Regions from separate parts of the Homo sapiens genome. Here regions 2 and 3 are each linked to region 1. Evidence: fine-mapped QTL for protein levels in blood plasma. A gene starts in region 1. Each other region holds a variant in brackets. All regions are shown on one strand. Distances are between the middles of the regions.

Region 1 (5,000 bases):
GGCTTTGTCCAATTCAACTTCTGGTTCACAAATAGTTACTTTCCTCTGGAGGGAAAAATAACCGGCTACAGTTGTTTCTTATTGGTTGCATGCTGACTAGTGGTTAGGCTATTAAAGGATTAACTGCTGATGACAATAATTTTCCTTTCATTTATTTCACAGTAGCAAGGTGTTTGTTTTTAACCTCTCCTAATTCATTAAACAAAGAGCATTTCAACAAGAATAGATATTTTCGAGGATCTCACCACAAACTAACCTACCCACTGCTTTTATTTTTCATGTTTTTTTTTTCTAGTTATGTCCCTCCATATGTATTTCTACCTAATTGCAATCATACTGTTGATACGATTTGGTGATGTGATTTTCTCTTTAGATTACACTGTCAACATTCTCCATGTTTCTGGAGACGTCGCACGATTATTTAATGGCCCCATAGTAACCTGCATGGAATAGTATTCTCTATTCCATGGTCCGAAGTTAGCCCCTTCCCTGTTCTTGGTCCTTAAAGGGTCTGTCACTCACCTCACCTATTTAGATGAAATTATCACAGAGACATAAAAAACATCCTTTGCAACATGAAATAAACAAGTAGCCCCAACTGCAATGTGTATCACCAGATAAAAAAGACGCACTCAGCCTGTAGAAGGCCAGGTGTGGACGGCTGGTGGGTAAGAATTCTTCCAATGGCAGGATGGAAGTATCACCAATAGTTTGTAACTAAGATACATACTGGCACTCACTTACATGATTAATAACCAGAAACTCAGAAATACTACACGCTACCAAGATACTTCCCTCGTCTCCTCTGTTTCCTTAGAACATAAAGGCTGGCAGCCTTGCTAGTCCCTCCTGCGCTAGACTGCAGGTAGTATCCTTTGTCCTGCCTATTAAGCGTCCCTGGCCAATGCAGAGGGGACGATCTGCCGGCTTCAGGCTGGCAGGTGCGGGGTGGGCTGTGTGCTGAGGACCAGGCTGGCCTTCTCGCGTCCTCTGGCGACAGAAATTAAGCAAGTCCGCAAAGAAGCATATTGCACCTTGAGGGAGAGGAAGAAAGAGTTGCGGGGGCGCGTGGGGTAGGGCCCGGGAGGCAGTGGGTGTTGGCAAGAAACGGAGTAGGAGGCTCTACAGAGGAGACTGGTCCTTGGTTAAGTGTCACAGCCGCAGGATGGGAGGGTGTGGGAGGGGTCCGTGGGGCCAACACAGGTGGCCCCTGCTGTGCGCGGCGAGGCAGGCTTGGAATGCCTTCTCCCCGAACAGAGCTAGCCCAGCACTGGGGGCTGGAGGCGCGGCTCTGGTGGGACTGAGGCCGGGAAGCGGCGCCGGGCGGGGTGGGGACTGGGGAGGAGGCGGGGCTGGTGTGGGGGCCACAGGGAGGCGGGCCGGGTTTAAGGGGGTGGCTGTAGGTGGGGTCTGGGAAGTTGGCCTCGGTGGGGACAGGGACAGGAGAGGTGGGGCCGGGACTGGGGAGGTGGGGGGAAATGGGGGCGTGGAGAAACGGAGCTTGGGGTTGGGGACCTGGGGAAGCTGGGTCCTGACTGGGGACAGGGAGGCGAGGCCGGGCTTGGGGGGTGTCCAGGGAGGCAGGGTGTGGGAAGGTCTGGGGCGGGGAAGTGGGGTCTGGGCTGGGGTGGGAGAGTTGGAGTCCAGAAGGGGACCGCGGGGTGGAAGGGGTCCGGGCTGGGACCGGGGTAGGCGGAGTCCAGGAGGGGACGCAGGGTGGGCGGGGTCCGGGCTGGGTCCGTGGGGTGGGCGGGGTCCGGGCTGGGACGCGGGGTGGGCGGGGTCCGGGCTGGGTCCGTGGGGTGGGCGGGGTCCGGGCTGGGTCCGTGGGGTGGGCGGAGTCCAGGAGGGGACCGCAGGGTGGGCGGGGTCCGGGCTGGGTCCGTGGGGTGGGCGGGGTCCGGGCTGGGTCCGTGGGGTGGGCGGGGTCCGGGCTGGGACCGCGGGGTGGGCGGGGTCCGGGCTGGGTCCGTGGGGTGGGCGGGGTCCGGGCTGGGACCGCGGGGTGGGCGGCCCCGAGAGCGTCCCGCAGTGGCTGGAGCCCTGGGCGCTGCAAAGCGTGTCCCGCCGGGTCCCCGAGCGTCCCGCGCCCTCGCCCCGCCATGCTCCTGCTGCTGGGGCTGTGCCTGGGGCTGTCCCTGTGTGTGGGGTCGCAGGAAGAGGCGCAGAGCTGGGGCCACTCTTCGGAGCAGGTAAGTGGAGCCGAGGGGAGCCGGGTCCCGGGCGCGGCCGCCCCCTTCCCTCCGCCGGCCCGGCCGCGGAGCTTCTGCCCGGGCCCCCTTCGACCGTCTCCCAGGCCCCCACCAGAGGCCCAGGGGTCCCTCTCTGTGGGTCACTCGTGCGTCACCTCTGTGTGAGCCGCGGTGCCTGATCTGGCCTGAGGCTTCCTGCAGAACTGTGCCCGGGACTTGTCCTGCGGAGCCGAGTTTTTCTTCTTGGCTCCTGTTGATTGCGCAGATTTCTGTTCGTCGTTGTTAATTTCTGAGGTAGCTCCAAAAGTTATTATAATTACAAGGTTTTTTCCTTATCACGCGTGGGGGGCAGTCTGCTGTTATCATCATTCCCAGTTGATCCAGGGAGAAAGGCAATATGAGAGGAGTTCTAGACTCCTGGGAGCCTCAGCTTTTCCCACCTGAAAACCGGGAGAACACGACTTTCCCATTTAGCGACTACCTACCGGTGGTTTAGCATTTAAAGGTGGCACCGAGAGCCAAAGCGTCTGAGTTCCTCGAGTTGCTGGTCTGTGCGTTTGTCAGGATTTGTGTTTCAAATGTCTTAACCTCGCAGGCGAATAAAACCTGCAAATATGAAATGTCAATAAAATGATGAATAGAGCATTTTTGTCTTTAAAAAGTATGAAGCGGGTTCACACAAATAGCATTGAGAGCTAATGTGCAACATGGCCCTGTCACAAAGTAGAAGTGCTTTCACACACATGCCATTTAAATATTTAAGCCGTTTAGCTTCCAGCGTGTTTGTGCACGGTGGGAGGAAGATACAAGTAGGCGGACCTTTTCTCCCTTTTCCAGCCCCTGTTTTGAAGAGCAGTTTTGAAGCCCAACTGCCTAAATATGAAGACAGTTATCTTCATGTTCTCTGTCCTGTGAATGTGCTTAACAGTAAAGTGGTAGTAATGATACTTCCTTCTAGGGGGGGAGTAGCTAATAAAATCCCAGGAGGCATCGTAGTGATGTTGGAAAAGTGCAGGCTTTGGATGCAGAGACAGGCTGGGCTTTAGTTGTGTGTTCCGGGCAAGCCCTTTAATCTCTCAGAGCCTTCATGTCCTCGTTGGTCAGGGCAGGGAATGCGGCTCTTTTTGAGCAAACTTGCAAGGACTCAGCTAATTTGTGTTAAGCACCTGGTATACAGTGGACGCTCAATAACTGGGAGATGTTTTAGTAGATGGCTGAAGGCATGGGCTTGGTACCAGGATGTCTGGGACCACTTGATTCTTGATTCTGTCACTTATCAGCTCTGGGACCCTGATCAAGTGCCTTTCGGCCTTATATTCCTCTTCTGTGAAATGTGGAGAAATGATAGGGTTGTGAGGACTGAATGCATTATGACACCCAAGTGCTTAAAACACTGTCAGCACTTAATGCTGGCCATGGTCTTAGACTCATGCTGCTGACATGCTGAGTGAAGGAATTTAGGGTAAAGATCTTGAAACTTTTTTGGGGGTGTGGAGACAGGACAGTGTGGGATGGACTGAAACAAAGATTCTGTGTCTGAACTAGGAAGGCTGTTTAAACTCTAGCATATACCAAGTTCAAGTAGGCTTCACAGTCTATGGACTTGCTGTCATAAAAAAACATGGCTTGACCTCTTTTAGTGATTTCATGCTGTCTTCAACCCAGCACAATATTTATTTATCTTGAAAATGACTAAATCAGGAAAAAAAATCCAAGGTATAAAGTTCTATGAACTTGCAATTTTACCTTTTATCCCTAATCCGTTCTTTTTTATATTTAGTTTTTGTGATATAGGGTTTGAGAGCATAGGCTTTAGCACCAGAATTCTGGGTTCAAATCTTGGCTCTGCACTTACTGAGGAGTTACTTAACGTTTGTGAGCCTCTATCTCTGTATGGGGATGATGCAATTACTTAGGATTTTGAAAAGTGAAACAATTAATATACTTAAATCTTAGAACAGAACCTGGGAATGTAATGAGCACTCTATTCTCAATCATTATGGTCTTTAAAATTGTATGTAAACTTAATTTGAAAAATGTAAGTCTATGCAAATCTTATGCAAATTTTAATATAGCTGAATATGACTATTAACTTGCATTGCAGTTATTTGTCATTCACCTGTAATTGGAAATATACCAGTAACACCTTAGATTCAAGTTCCTTCACCTCTCACCCTTCACCCCATCTGTAGACAGTGGGTACTCAGTAACCCATAGTGGAATGACTCCTAAAAGCAGTGGTTTTCACCCTTGGGGTGGAAAAAGTCACTTGGGGTGTTCATTAAACATTCAGCTTCCTGAGTTCCACTTCCATTGGTTTAGATCCATTGGGTTTGGGATGGGGCGCAGATGATTCTGATGCAGGTGGTCCATGGAACACATTTTAGTTTTTTTTTTTTTTTTGAGACGGAATCTCGCTGTGTCGCCCAGGCTGGAGTGCAGTGGCAGGCTCTCTGCTCTCTGCAACCTCTGGCTCCTGGGTTCAAGTGATTCTCATGCCTCAGCCTCCCAAGCAGATGGGATTACAGGTGCACTCCACCATGCCTGGCTAATTTTTGTATTTTTAATAGAGACAAAAATACATCACGTTGGCCAGGCTGGTCTCAAACTCCTGAGCTCAAGTGATCCACCTGCCCTGGCCTCCCAAAGTGCTGGGATTACAGGCATAAGCCACTGTGCCTAGCCGCACACTTTGAATAGTAGTATTTTTAAAGGATATTTTGGGAAATTAGTATTTAAAAGAAAATCCCTTGTATAAAAACTGTCTGCTACAGACTTATCTGTTTTGTTAGCTTAAATTTATATGGT
Region 2 (5,432 bases), 87 kb after region 1:
TAGAGAAAAGTCACTCCAGTCAGGATGATGGATGGTGGTGATGGTCATCAAACTCTAAATTTACTACAAATCATGAATTGGACACTTAGAATGGGTGATCTTTTGGTATGTAGATTTTATCTTAAGCCATTTTAAAAAAAAAACAAAGGAAATAGGTGTTCACACTACAGTAAGGTCTCTGCTTTACTTGGTAATGGTGGGATGTTGGTAGCTTAGTCCAGTGGAATTCTTAGCTAACCCAGAAACCTCACTGTAGCTGGGGTTTCAACCTCAACCACCCAACCACCTGTCTCCCCATCCACCAAACAAATACTTGTTCAGCTCCTATCAAAGACACAGGCCCCAACTTTATTTATTTATTTTGCTCCCAAACTTAAATTGTCTGATTTATTTTAATCATAAAGTAGTAAATTTAAGAATACATGGGGCCAGGTGCTGTGGCCCCTGCCAGTAATCCCAGCACTTTGGAGGCCGAGGCGGGCAGATCACAAGGTCAGGAAATCAAGACCAGCCTGGCCAACATGGTGAAACCCGTCTCTACTAAAAAAGTACAAAAATTAGCCAGGCATGGTGGCGTGTGCCTGTAATCCCAGCTACTCGGGAGGCTGAGGCAGGAGAATTGCTTGAACACAGGAGGCAGAGGTTGCAGTGAGCCAAGATCACGCCACTGCATTCCACCTTGGGCGAAAGAGCATGACTATATCTCAAAAAAAAAAAAAAAAAAAAAAATACATGGGTGGCCGGGCATGGTGGCTCATGCCTGTAGTCCCAGCACTTTGGGAGGTTGAGGTGGGAGAACTGCTTGAGCCCAGGAGTTCGAGACCAGCCTGGGCAACATAGTGAGACCCTGTCTCTAAAAAAAAAAAAAAAAAAAAAAAGAAGGAAAAGAAAAGAAAACATGGGAACATTCTTTTTAAAGGAAGCAGTAACCTGTAGTGTAACATACATGCAGAAAAATGTACATGTAGTAAGTGTACAACTTGATATGTTTTCATAAACTGAACAGAACCTGGACCCAGATCAAGAAACAGAACATTTAGAACTCCAGAAGCCTGCTCATGTTCTCACACCATTTTTTCCATGGAAGTATCTATTCTAAAACATTTGAGGAATAAAGAAAATCATCAAAAGAAAAAAAGGAGAGAAAAACCTCCTGCTGTCCACAGATGCCTGCTAATGTCATTGGTGTTTATTGTTCCATCATTTCTCAGAGTTGAGATTTGTTTTCTGTTTCGTATGGTTTTTCTAAGCCACATATTCCTGATAAAATTTTTCTTCCCTTTCGCCCCCAACTTTATTTTATTTATTCATTTATTTATTTTATTTTTATTTTTTCTGTTGAGACCGCGTCTCACTCTGTTTCCCAGGCTGGAGTGCAATGGCACGATCTTGGCTCACTGCAACTTCCGTCTTCTGGGTTCAAGTGATTTTCTGACCTTAGCCATCCGAGTAGCTGGGATTACAGGCATGTACCACCATGCCCGGCTAATTTTTGTATTTTTGGTAGAGACAGGGTTTTGCCATGTTAGCGAGGCTGGTCTCGAACTCCTGACCTCAGGTGATCCACCCACCTTGGCCTCCCAGAGTGCTGGGATTACAGGCATGAGCCACCGTGCCTGGCTGGCCTCCAACTTTAATCAGAGCTGTTGCTGACAAGGGCCTCTGAAGGAAAAAGGGTGGCCAGGAGGAGAAATATTTCATGGCTCCTTTCTCTGTGGGGTTCTGGCAAGCAGAGGTGATCTGAAGGGACAGGAAGCAAAGAAAGGAGAGACGATGAAGGCAACAAATTCATTCTTTCATCAGCTCCACCTAGCCCTAGACAACACTGGAAGGCATCTGAGATGTCAGCAGCTACCCTCCTCCTCTTCGTTCCATGCCCCTCCTCCCCTCTGCGGCTCTTTCTCCCTCCACATTCCTGCTGTCTTCTATGCTCAACACCTTCCTGCTCTTTTCAAAGCCATTCTCAGAAGAGGGCACAGAAGCCATTGAAGCTCAGGTAAGCTAAGGCGTCGCCACATGCCTTCTGGAGAAGGTTTGTTACAGTGGGATAATCCCCATTCACTTATATGCATTTAGTAAATGCACTTGCTTTTAGCAAGTTTCTGGATGGCCCCTTAACACCTCACTCCTGTGAGCATTTGGGTGGTTGAGCGTGAACTGCAGCTATGAAAGTGCATTCAGGCTGGGCATGGTGGCTCATGCCTGTGATTCCAGCACTTTGGGAGGCCAAGGTGGGCGGATTACTTGAGGTCAGGAGTTTGAGACCAGCCTGGCCAACATGGTCAATCCCATCTCTACTAAAAATACAAAAATTAGCCAGATGTGGTGGTGTGCACCTGTAATCCCAGCTACTCGGGAGGCTGAGGCGGGAGAATCGCTTGAACCTGGGAGGCGGAGGTTGCAGTGAGTGCAGATTGCGCCATTGCACTCCAGCCTGGGTGACAGAGCAAGACTCCGTCTCAAAAAAAAGAAAGTGCAATCAGAGTGCGGAGGTGAGTGCAGAGGCTTGAGCTGTTCCGTGTTGGTGTCCTGCAGGCACAGACATCAACGGGG[C/T]CCTGCAGAGGGCCATCAGGCTCCTCAACAAGTACGTGGCCCACAGTGGCATTGGAGACCGGAGCGTGTCCCTCATCGTCTTCCTGACGGATGGGAAGCCCACGGTCGGGGAGACGCACACCCTCAAGATCCTCAACAACACCCGAGAGGCCGCCCGAGGCCAAGTCTGCATCTTCACCATTGGCATCGGCAACGACGTGGACTTCAGGCTGCTGGAGAAACTGTCGCTGGAGAACTGTGGCCTCACACGGCGCGTGCACGAGGAGGAGGACGCAGGCTCGCAGCTCATCGGGTCTGTGGTCTGTCTTCGTAGGCATGAGAGGCTGTTTGAGGGGCTGAGGGGTGGCTGCGGTGGGAATTCAGAGAGGAGTGTGTTGCTGCACCCCAGCCTTGCATCTGCTGACAACGATCATAGCTCATTGCAATGGGAGGTGTCACCATGTGTTTTGAAACTAGGCAGATCAGAGTTCGAATTCTGATCCTCCTTTATGACTTTAGGCAAGATTTTTTTTTTTTTTCTTGTGATGGAGTTTCGCTCTTGTTGCCCAGGCTGCAATGCAATGGCGTGATCTCAGCTCACTGCAACCTCTGCTTCCTGGGTTCAAGCAATTCTCTTGCCTCAGCCTCCTGAGTAGCTGGGACTACAGTCACACACCACCACGCCTGGCTAATTTTGTATTTTTAGTAGAGACAAGGTTTCTCCATGTTGGTCAGGCTGGTCTCGAACTCCTGACCTCAGGTGATCTGCCCGCCTTGGCCTCCCAAAGTACTGGGATTATGGGCGTGAGCCACCACACCCGGCCCTAAGCAAGATTTTAAGACAGTCTGTACCTCCGTTTTCTCATCTGTAAAATGAGGATTATGGTTGGTTGCAGAATTTAATGAGAAAATCGCTATATAAAAACACTATGTATAGCACTGGCACAGTGGCCATCCCATATTAAGTATTTAATGAGCTCTCATAGTTCATTGACATCCTGATATTTCAAAGCACTTTCTAGTAAGTTTACTTTTATTCTACCCTGTGAGCAAGTAGCAGAGTACTGTTATGTTCATTTTGAGTACTAGTTAAAAGATACTTTTATTTGGAAGCAAAACCATCAGATAAAACTGTTAAATAATCAGATTATTTTGAGGTGGAGAATAAATGAGATCTTTTAAATGAGAGATGGAGAAAACTCAGATCTTTTAAAACAGAAATAGCTTCCCTCCGATATTATGTTGCCACGCATCAGTCTGCTCCTTTGCTGTTCATTGAGTGAAGTGCCAGCTCCCAGTTCAGCGTGAGGTGCTTTAATCTGCATCGTGGCATATGTGGTATCTACTTAAAAGCAAAGGGGAGGTTTGGGTAGATTTATAGGTGTTTAATAGCCATAGTCAAAGCACATTTATTAATGATAAATGGAAATGGAGACACCTAAGGTGTGCAGTAAAGACAGGTCCTCGGTTTGGGATTCGCCACCGTTTCCTCCCACGCATTTTAATGAAAGATTTAAATGAAAACACAGATTTGCTTTCCACATTTTAAAAATTATTCAAAACTAGAGTCAAAGGGGAGAATCTGATACACTGGATAACAGAATTGAAATTCAATAAGGCATTCAGAAGCAAAAGCAGTTATGCTGTAACAAGTCAGCTGCACTGCCATCCCACTGAAACTATGATCGATACCTGGCATTTATGAGAACTTATGATACACCAGGAACTTCGATGTGCATCATCCCAGATGATCCTCACAGAAATCCTAGGAGGTAGGTGTATTAGGGTAAAGGCTAAGCTGCAATACAGAGATGATGAAAGGCAAAGGCTGAAATAAGATAGCCATTTCCTTCCCTCTCCTGTAATGGTAACAGGCTAGATCCTGCTCCCAGAAGTCATTCAGGGACCCAAGCTCCTTCTGTTTTATTGCTCTGCTTCCCTCAGGTGTTGTCCTTAATGCTACAGGATTGAAATTCAGTCACTATCACTCTTGTTTTCTAGCCGCAAAAAGGGAGAGAGAAAAGAAAGCCAGCATGGATTGTAAGCAAATATTGAGAAGTTGCACATCTCACTGCTACCCATATTCCATTGGGAGGACATAGTCACATAGCCATTTGTGGCCTCGATGGAGGCTGGGAAATGTAGTTTGTAGCTGGATGGCCGGAGCTCAATTCTCATGAAAGAAGGGGAAAATGGACTTTCAGGGACAGCTAGTAGGTGACCAAAGAAGTACTGTTTACATCCTGATTTTCTAGATAAGGAAACTCAAGTTCAGAGAGGTTAAGTCACATGTCCCAAGACACACAGCAAGGAAGCAACAGAGATGGAAGTCTAACTCCACAGCCTATGGTTTCTAGGCCTTTTGAAAGGGAATTTTAATTGTCTCCTTACTTAGCAAGAAGCGACCATGCAACTTAACTACAAGGAAAGCAAATGCAAGCAAATGTTATACGCACAAACTCACGAAAGTCAGGTTTCTGAAGTAGAATGCGCTGCTTAAAGCACATCTGGAATTTGTATTTGGTTCTAAGAAAAAGGTTTTTAAGAGTCCCTTTAAGAAACGTAAGTGTACACAAAGGAAATTTACCAAGACTGGTGAGGGAATCTTGAAATTGTATCACAGGAAGAATAGTTCATGAAACTGGGGATTGACTGGGCTTAAAGGAATGCACAGCATTGTTTTTTAAGCATCCAAATGTCTGTTGAAATGGATTACACTAATTCGATATTGTTCCAGAGGCAAAACTGAAACCAGTGGGTGGAAATTTCAGGGAGGAAGATTTTAATCTACTATAAGCAGGTTTTTTCTCATCATGAGAGTGGTTGAAAAACAGCTCAGAAGCCGCGTGAGAGAATGCATTCCCTCTCACCAATGGTGTTCAACCTGCTGCCTAGTGATC
Region 3 (8,954 bases), 100 kb after region 1:
GCACTTCCCAGGGAGAGCAGCCAGATCCTCTCAAGGGCCCGTGTCAGGGATGCTGGGGCAGAAAGGGTTTCTCAGCAGTCAATGCAGGGATGTTAGTTTGCTGCAGCTTAAAAAGAGTGGACTCTGCCTGGCCCCTGCCTACACCGTGCACAGCGTGCATGCAGACATGTCCATGTGCACAGAAGGCAGAGGGGCATTTGAGAAACAAGTTGTAGGCCGGTGTGGTGGCTCACGCCTGAAATCCCAGCACTTTGGGAGGCTGAGGTGGGTGGAATGCTTGAGCCCAGGAGTTTGAGACCAGCCTGGGCAACATAGTGAGACCCTGTCCCTACAAAAAATAAAAAATTAGCCTGGCATGGTGGCACGTGCCTGTAGTCCCAGCTACTCAGGAGGCTGAGGTGGGAGGACCGTTTGAGCCCAGGAGTTTGAGGCTGCAGTGAGCTCTGATTGCACCACTGTACTCCAGCCTGGTCAACAGAGTGGGACCCTGTCTCAAAAATAAATAAAATAAACAAATTGCACTTGGAATATAAATTAGAGAGAAGGTAAATCTCCAATCTGGTAAGAGAATTGATATAGATTCTCAAGAAATCTTCTGTCTGTATAATAAAAGGCAAGGCTGTTCACCTTTAACAGAGGTGAAAATGAGGAGAACAGATAAGAACTGTCAGCTGAACTTTGCGGTCTCATCTGTGGACAGAAATTTCAGAGCAGTGAAGTCGGAGTGACCCAAAGGAGGGGTTTCCGCCAGCACCCTGACTGTGCGCCTGGCCGCCTACTCGCATTTTGCTTCCCTTGCCTCTGCATCTAAGCTGGGCATGGCTCTCAGTGCCTGCGTGCAGGGGTGGCGTACAGCTGACGCTGCGAATGAGCCTGGGGTAGCCCATGGCTTCCTGGGAGAAGAAGCACCATAGATCTCCCATCATAGGGAGGAAAGTCCTCTGCATCTGTGCCATTAAAGGAGAAAGCAAATAGCAAGGGATGTCCCCCTGGGAAATGGAAGCATGGGGGCTGAGTACCAGTTGAAGGTGTGTGGGGATCTCTCTTTCCTTCTCCTCTCACCTCTCAAAGCTTAGTTGTCTAGACTGAGCTGAGGTGTGTTGAAAGGAGCATTATATTGGAATTTAGAAGACCTGAAGTCAAATGTTTACTGCAAACTCACTGGGTAATTCTGGGGAGTTGTTTCCCTCCCACTCATCTTCCTCATCTGGAAATTGAGGACACCTCCTTCCAGAATAGTTTTCAGGATTCAATAAAATAATTCATGAGAAAATAGAGAGTAGCACCTACACAAGGAAGGTACTGAATAAGTGTCTTTCTTTTTCTCTCCGTTTTCTTCTGCTCTGGCAGTGGATGGTGATCCCCACTTTGTTGTGGATTTCCCCCTGAGCAGACTCACCGTGTGCTTCAACATTGATGGGCAGCCCGGGGACATCCTCAGGCTGGTCTCTGATCACAGGGACTCTGGTAAGTTCTACCTTCCGCTGCAGCATCTGGGCAAGGACCAGGTAGGTACTGCATCCCCCTCTGTTCTTCAGATGGATGTCCAGTGATCCAAGGGCCACCTTACAGACGCTCAGTGAGTATCGTCAGTGGTTAAGGGAAGCGCACTGCGCTCCTGGACTTATGCATCCGACTCCCTGCTTTATGACAAGTGCCGTGTGACCTTGGGCACATGCCTTGGGAGTTGTTTCCCTTGTAAAATGGAGATAGGAACACTCTCTTGGCCTCACAGAGCTAATATAAAATGGATCAAATGAAACTGGTTATGAAGTTGTTTTTTAAATGCTGAAGTGCTTTAGAAATCCGCTATGTAGGCTGGGCGCGGTGGCTCATGCCTGTAATCCCAGCACTTTGGGAGGCCGAGGCAGGTGGATCACCGGAGGTCAGGAGTTCAAGACCAGCTTGGCCAACATGGTGAAACCCCATCTCTACTAAAGTTACAAAAAAATTAGCCCGGCATAGTGGTGGGCACCTGAAATCCCAGCTACTCGGGAGGCTGAGGCAGGAGAATCGCTTGAACCTGGGAGGCAGAGGTTGCAGTGAGCTGAGATCATGCCACTGCACTCCAGCCTGGGTGAAAAGAGCAAGACTCTATCTCAAAAAAAAAAAAAAAAAAAAAAAGAAAAAGAAAAAAAGAAAAGAAAACCACAATATATTATTGTGTATTATTGTCATAGTGTCTATCCATTCAAAAGCTGTGATGCCGGGGAGGCCAAGGTTCTAAACTCATGTCAGTTTCTTGATGACTTACATGGGATGTCACATGTTAATCCACAGTTCTGTCTGTGTGCCGTGAACATGTATGGACAAAGGGGCTCTGTGGCCCCTGTTGGTCTGTAGAGGGCTTGGGTGAAAGAGATTAGCACAGAGAAAGCTTTTCAAGTTCGATGCAGGTAACAAACCATGTCCAGCTCTGTGAGGACAAGCTTTGGAGTGGGCACCCCGGCACTTCCTCACTGCTGAGAACGTGTCTTGGAATGTTGGGTTGCACAGGGTCCCCCAGCAGGTGATATGTGTGATGCAATTATGTAGAGTTTGATCCTGGGGTTCCTTCAACACATGTTTTCTTGTGGGACTTTATAGCCTCAGAGCCAAATCTCTACTGTTTCTTATTTCAAAGGGCTCAGGAGCAAGATAGGGGCCTAACTGTATATGTCCTTGGAAATACCTCCTATTCTGGGAGCAGTTCCCATGGTTTCTGTCTTCAGCGAGATGTCCGTGGTGGGAACTCAGCCTGAAAATGCTTAGAACTTTGAGGCTGGAAGAGCATAGGCTCTTCTCATGCTGGGATTTCTCCTCTCCCCTGACCCCTTGCCCCAGAGAAGGCCCTTTTTTCCTTGAATGTCTAAGAAGTTTTATTGGGAAGATTACTGGGAAGATTGTTCTCAAAGCAGAGAAAACAAGAGTTAATTATATAGCAATCTTTTCTTATTGCAAATTGCTGCTTTGCCTGAGAGCAAAACACATTTAACATGCATCACCTAATTCAGCCCCAAACATCTCAAGTGCAATCGCCATCTGTTTGTTATTCAGCCAGACAGCACGGAACCCTGGGGCCTGGTTCACAGGCCTTGCTCAAGTCCAGAAAAGCCCCAGTGATGTTCATAATGATGAAGAAAAAAAAGGAGTTCTATTTCATAGCAGTTTACAACTTACACACATGCTACCTTCTGGGATCCTCACAAAAATTCTGTTAGGTTTTCCATCTGTCCATCCATTTTACAGATAAGGAAATTGAGGCAGGGTTTTTGTTTTTTTGAGATGTAGTTTCACTCTGTTGCCTAGGCTGCAGTGAAGTGGCACCATCTCAGCTCACTGCAATCTCCACCTCCTGGGTTTAAGTGATTCTCCTGCCTCAGCTTCCCCAGAAACTGGGATTACAGGTTTTTTTTTGACTTGTCTAAGGACAAACACCTAAGTGGAAGAACTTGAGTTTTTGGACAAAAACAAAACAAAAAACAACAACTAAGTTTACATTCTCCCACACTGCTCAGTGGCATCATAAGATGTCTGAGCAAACTATTGCAAGGACAGAAAACCAAACACCGCATGTTCTCACTCATAGGTGGGAATTGAACAATGAGAACACTTGGACACAGGGTGGGGAACATCACATACCAGGGCCTGTCGTGGGGTCAGGGTAGGGGGGCGGGATAGCATGAGGAGATATACCTAATGTAAATGACGAGTTAATGGGTGCAGCACACCAACAGGGCACATGTATACATATGTAACAAACCTGCACGTTGGGCACATGTACTCTAAAACCTAAAGTATAATAATAATAATAATAATAATAATAATAATAATAAAAGATGTCCGAATTAGGATCAGCAGCCTCTGGTAGGTACAAAATATGTATCAGGGTCATATAAGAGTTCTTATCACTACAGCCACACTGGAAGGAAACCAGACGAACATGGTAAGCTGTGTGTAGATGCACAAATACTTAGCTTCATGCCTCCATCTACGATATCTTGACCCAAAACTACATCCTCTCTCCCCTATCCCAACATACTGGTCAGACAACAGTAAAAAATCCGCACATAACTTTACGCATTCCCTCATTTGTTCACTCACTTGGTGACCACTGAGTGACCTCTGTGTGTAAGTCAGACATGTTTTTGGTACTAGAGATACAAAGATAAGCCCAAAGGAGGAGGGAAGTTCTAACTTGATGCGTTGGGCAGGGATAGATTTTCTTTTCTTTTCTTCTTCTTCTTCTTCTTCTTCTTCTTCTTCTTCTTCTTCTTCTTCTTCTTCTTCTTCTTCTTCTTCTTCTTCTTCCTCTTCCTCTTCCTCTTCCTCTTCCTCTTCCTCTTCCTCTTCCTCTTCTTCTTCTTCTTTCTTCTTTCTTCTTTCTTCTTTCTTCTTCTTCTTCTTCTTCTTCTTTTTTTTTTTTTTTTTAATGAGATAGGATCTCACTCTGTAGCCCAGGGTAGACTGCAGTGGTGCAATCACAGATCACTGCAGCCTTGAACTCCTGGCCTCAAGGGAACTCCTGGGCTCAAGTGAACTAGCTGGGACTACAGGCTTGCACCACTATGCTCAGCTAATTGTTTATTTTTAGTAGAGATGGGGTCTCTGTGTTGCCCAGGCTGGTCTTGAACTCCTGGACTCAGGCAATCCACCTGCCCTGGCCTTCTAAGTGCTGGGATTACAGGTGTGAGCCACCACTCCTGGTCAGATTTTCTAACCTTCTTCTTTTCCCCTTGGCCTTTGAGGTGTCACAGTGAACGGAGAGTTAATTGGGGCACCCGCCCCTCCAAATGGCCACAAGAAACAGCGCACTTACTTGCGCACTATCACCATCCTCATCAACAAGCCAGAGAGATCTTATCTCGAGATCACACCGAGCAGAGTCATCTTGGATGGTGGGGACAGACTGGTGCTCCCCTGCAACCAGAGTGTGGTGGTGGGGAGCTGGGGGCTGGAGGTGTCCGTGTCTGCCAACGCCAATGTCACCGTCACCATCCAGGGCTCCATAGCCTTTGTCATCCTCATCCACCTCTACAAAAAGCCGGCGCCCTTCCAGCGACACCACCTGGGTTTCTACATTGCCAACAGCGAGGGCCTTTCCAGCAACTGCCACGGACTGCTGGGTAGGAAGCTGCGCTCTCCTCACGCTGGGCATAGAGGGCAGAGTTACATTTCCCAAGCAAAGCTGATATTGCCAACACCTTTCGTTTGATTGAGAAATTCAATAGGAATGTGGTTTTCATTATATATACAGTCCGCATATGTATGTATGTATGTGTGTGTGTACATATATATAGTCTATACATATATACATATACATAATGTATTATATACTATACATATATATGTATATATGTATTATATATAGTCTGTATGTATGCATATGTGTACATGCAGACTGCATATGTGTATATAGTCTCTCTATATAAATACATAATATATATTATATATGCAGTCTGTATATGTATGTGTATATGGTCTGTATATGTATGTGTGTGTATATATATACAGTCTATACATATATACATATACATAATGTATTATATATTATAAATATACATGTATATATGTATTATATATACCGTCTGTATGTATATATGTATACACAGACTGATAAGTATGTATATATACAGTCTATATATGCACACATATACATAATATATAATCAGTCTGTATATGTACATATGTATGTCTGTGTGTATATATACACAGTCTATGTGTATATATGTATGTATACTGTCTATGTATGTGTGCATGATATGTGTGTATATATACATACATAGTCTGTGTATGTATATATATATGTATACCATCTTTGTATGTGTGATGTGTGTGTGTATATATATATA[C/TAC]AGTCTGTATGTATGGTGTGTGTATATATGTACAGTCTGTGTATATGTGTATATGTATGTATACACTCTGTGTATATATGTATGTATGATGTGTGTGTATGTGTGTGTATATATATATATATAGCCTGTGTATGTATGTGTGTTTATATATACAGTCTGTATGTATGTATGGTGTGTGTATATATACACAGTCTGTATATGTATGTGTGTGTGTGTGTGTATATATATATATACAGTCTATGTGTGTATATATGTATATATATATACAGTCTATGTATGTATATATGTATATATGTAGGTATACAGTCTATATGTATGAACGTGTGTGTATATGTATATGTATGTATACAGTCTGTGTATGTATGGTGTGTGTATATATATATATATACACACACAGTCTGTATATGTATGTATGTGTGTGTGTATACATATACAGTCTGTGTATGTATGTATATATGTATGTATGTATACAGTCTATGGTGTGTGTGTGTATATATACACACAGTCTGTATATATGTGTGTGTGTACACATACACAGTCTGTGTATGTATGTACATATTATATATATTCACACCCACCGACACACACAGTCATGCCTTGCTTAATGACAGGGATACATTCTAATGGTCGTTAGGTGATTTGGTCATTACGTGACCATCTAGAATATCCTTACACAAACCTCTCTAGATAGTGTCGCATACTACCCACTCAGCTAGGCTATGTGGTGTCTCCTATTGCTCCCGGGCTGCAAACCTGTACAGCATGTGACTGCATGGACTACTGCAGGCAATTGCAACACGATGATAAGTATTTGTTCATCTAAACATATCTAGACATAGAAAAGGTACACTAAAAATATGCTATTATAATCTTATGGGACCACCATCATATTTTCAGTCCATCATTGATTAAAATGTCATGATGTGGTGCATGACTATATATGTAACATGAAAATTACATATGTAATATGAAAATTCGATTACTATATATGTAATATGAACATTAGATTACTACATATGTAATATGAAAATTAGATTCCTTCCTGGGCTTTGTGAGCTAGGAATGGGCTTTATAAACCAGTAGTTCTCTTTAGCCTTCTGGAAAAATGAATGAGGAATTAAAATGTAGTCACCTGAGGGTCCAGTTCCTTTGCTCTCAGCAAGAATACACAGACACGAGGCAGCCCTGCCCAGCGCCCAGCCTGAGCGACACCCCCACCGGGGGGGCACCCACGTGGCCGTGCCCAGCAGGCGGGCCATTCTACCCAGCTTTCTTCAACGTGTAATTTCATGTGGGCCCCTTGCCCAAAAATAAAGAGCAAGCCATTGTCAGGGTTCAGTTTAGTAGGCAGGATTTCCTGGCTCTTGAGCTGGCCGCGTTTCGTGGGGCCTGGCGGCCCAGCATGAGCTCCCCTTGCAGACACAGCTCTTTATTCCTGTGGCCTGAGCAGTGCTGCCATCTGACCAGGAGAGTCCTGAGGACGAGGGTCAGAGAGGATCTGAGCTGACTGCTTTCCACCCCCACCCGGCACAGACCTGAGACGGATAGAAAGGAGGCGGGCCTGTGACTGGGAAGAGGACAGAGAGAAGATGGAACACTACTTCCCTCTTCATATGCCCCGTCCTGTCCTCTGGACTCAGTAGGAGACCGTGGTTATCACTATGTGTAGGTTACACAACTTTCTAGTGTTAGCAGCTGGGAAGCTTCCAGCAGTCATGGGTAAATCCCACAATGTGGATAAATCCTCAGCTCTCTCCACCCTGCCCCCCAGAGCACATGTTCTTCCATGTCACTGGGAGAGTCCAGTCTCGGGCTGTGGCCAGTTGTAAGCCTTTCTGCCACTGATAGCTCTGAAGTTGGAGTTCAGCACGAGGTTTCTGCATTTGACTGAGACCCGATGCTTTTCCTTGTCCTCCCAGGTCAGTTCCTGAATCAGGATGCCAGACTCACAGAAGACCCTGCAGGGCCCAGCCAGAACCTCACTCACCCTCTGCTCCTTCAGGTGGGAGAGGGGCCTGAGGCCGTCCTAACAGTGAAAGGCCACCAAGTCCCAGTGGTCTGGAAGCAAAGGAAGATTTACAACGGGGAAGAGCAGATAGACTGCTGGTTTGCCAGGAACAATGCCGCCAAACTGATTGACGGGGAGTACAAGGATTACCTGGCATCCCATCCATTTGACACAGGGATGACACTTGGCCGGGGAATGTCCAGGGAGCTCTGAAGCTGGCAGCCTTAAAGATGCAAGTGCATGAAGGACAGTGATGTGGGGAGGCCGTGGGGCAGCTCTTTTCATGGCTTGTACACGCCTCAGCTCCTGGCAATTAGCTGGACTCCATGACCCACCCCTGGTGCAGCATAGATCCGACGTCTGTCTGGGCGAAGGGTAGGGGTGGGTAGGGGCGGGAAGCCTGAGTGCAAATGTCATTTCCCTCTACTGCCTCTTCCTGCCTCTCCCCACCCTGCCCACATCCACAGAGGGGAGAGAAGGGTCATAGCTAAATGCAACAAAGTCTGTATCTTGTCCCAACCTGCTTTTCTGTTCTGTTAGCATATCATAAAGTAAGCCTTTCTGGTGAAGGAAGGTTGCTATGAAACTTTTTTTCTTGGTGGAAATGGACAAGTTTAGGCACTCTGCTTTTTGCCTTACACTAATGCTTAGAAAGCTGTCTTTTCAGTGGTGTTGCAGCCCCCAGATGTGTGGCCAACCTCTGCTGCAAAGGAATCTCTTGCTGAGTCCAGGCCACCAATCAGGCAAATAGCCCATACATTTGATCGTTGTAAACCATGAAGTCTTTTCTTGCAAGACGTTTTTCTTCTGCTGTGGTATCTTGCCCTTAAAAATTAGTTTTCATTAAAAAGAAATTTGATTGAAAATAGAAACATCTACAGCTCAGATACTGATCTCTTTCTAATGGGCTTTGTAAACCACTTGACTTTGCTAATGGCTATTCTCCAATTTGTTCCAATAAGCTAAGGGCTTTTCATACACAGGACAACTCCATGTGGTTGATTTTACTGGCATGTCTTGGTGACGAAGAGTTGGCCAAGTGAATGATGCATCTTTTACTTGGAGCTCTCCAGCCTTTGTCATAGTTCCCAGACCTTTTTTCCTTGTGGTCATCC

Evidence for each region. PIP is the chance, under the fine-mapping model, that this variant and not a neighbour inherited with it causes the effect. Protein levels are from the aptamer-based SomaScan assay of Sun 2018.
Region 2: its variant is fine-mapped to the plasma level of the ITIH5 protein (Sun 2018, PIP 0.95). The variant lies in the coding sequence of ITIH5. If it changes the protein, the assay may bind it differently, which can mimic a change of level.
Region 3: its variant is fine-mapped to the plasma level of the ITIH5 protein (Sun 2018, PIP 0.91).

The regions. Positions count from the first base shown.
Region 1 is chr10:7,663,995-7,668,994 of GRCh38, reverse strand. ITIH5 (inter-alpha-trypsin inhibitor heavy chain 5) reads left to right here and starts at 2,029. Exons shown (of 14, transcript NM_030569.7): 1 at 2,029-2,192. The coding sequence starts at 2,103.
Region 2 is chr10:7,577,168-7,582,599 of GRCh38, reverse strand. ITIH5 (inter-alpha-trypsin inhibitor heavy chain 5) reads left to right here. Exons shown (of 14, transcript NM_030569.7): 9 at 2,536-2,845. Among named protein-coding and RNA genes, the nearest start is that of ITIH5, 87 kb to the left of the region's middle. The variant C/T (reference allele first, on the strand shown) is at 2,554.
Region 3 is chr10:7,562,181-7,571,134 of GRCh38, reverse strand. It overlaps ITIH5 (inter-alpha-trypsin inhibitor heavy chain 5), which reads left to right. Exons shown (of 14, transcript NM_030569.7): 12 at 1,351-1,467; 13 at 4,728-5,105; 14 at 7,751-8,954. The coding sequence ends at 8,052. Among named protein-coding and RNA genes, the nearest start is that of LINC02642, 94 kb to the right of the region's middle. The variant C/TAC (reference allele first, on the strand shown) is at 5,832.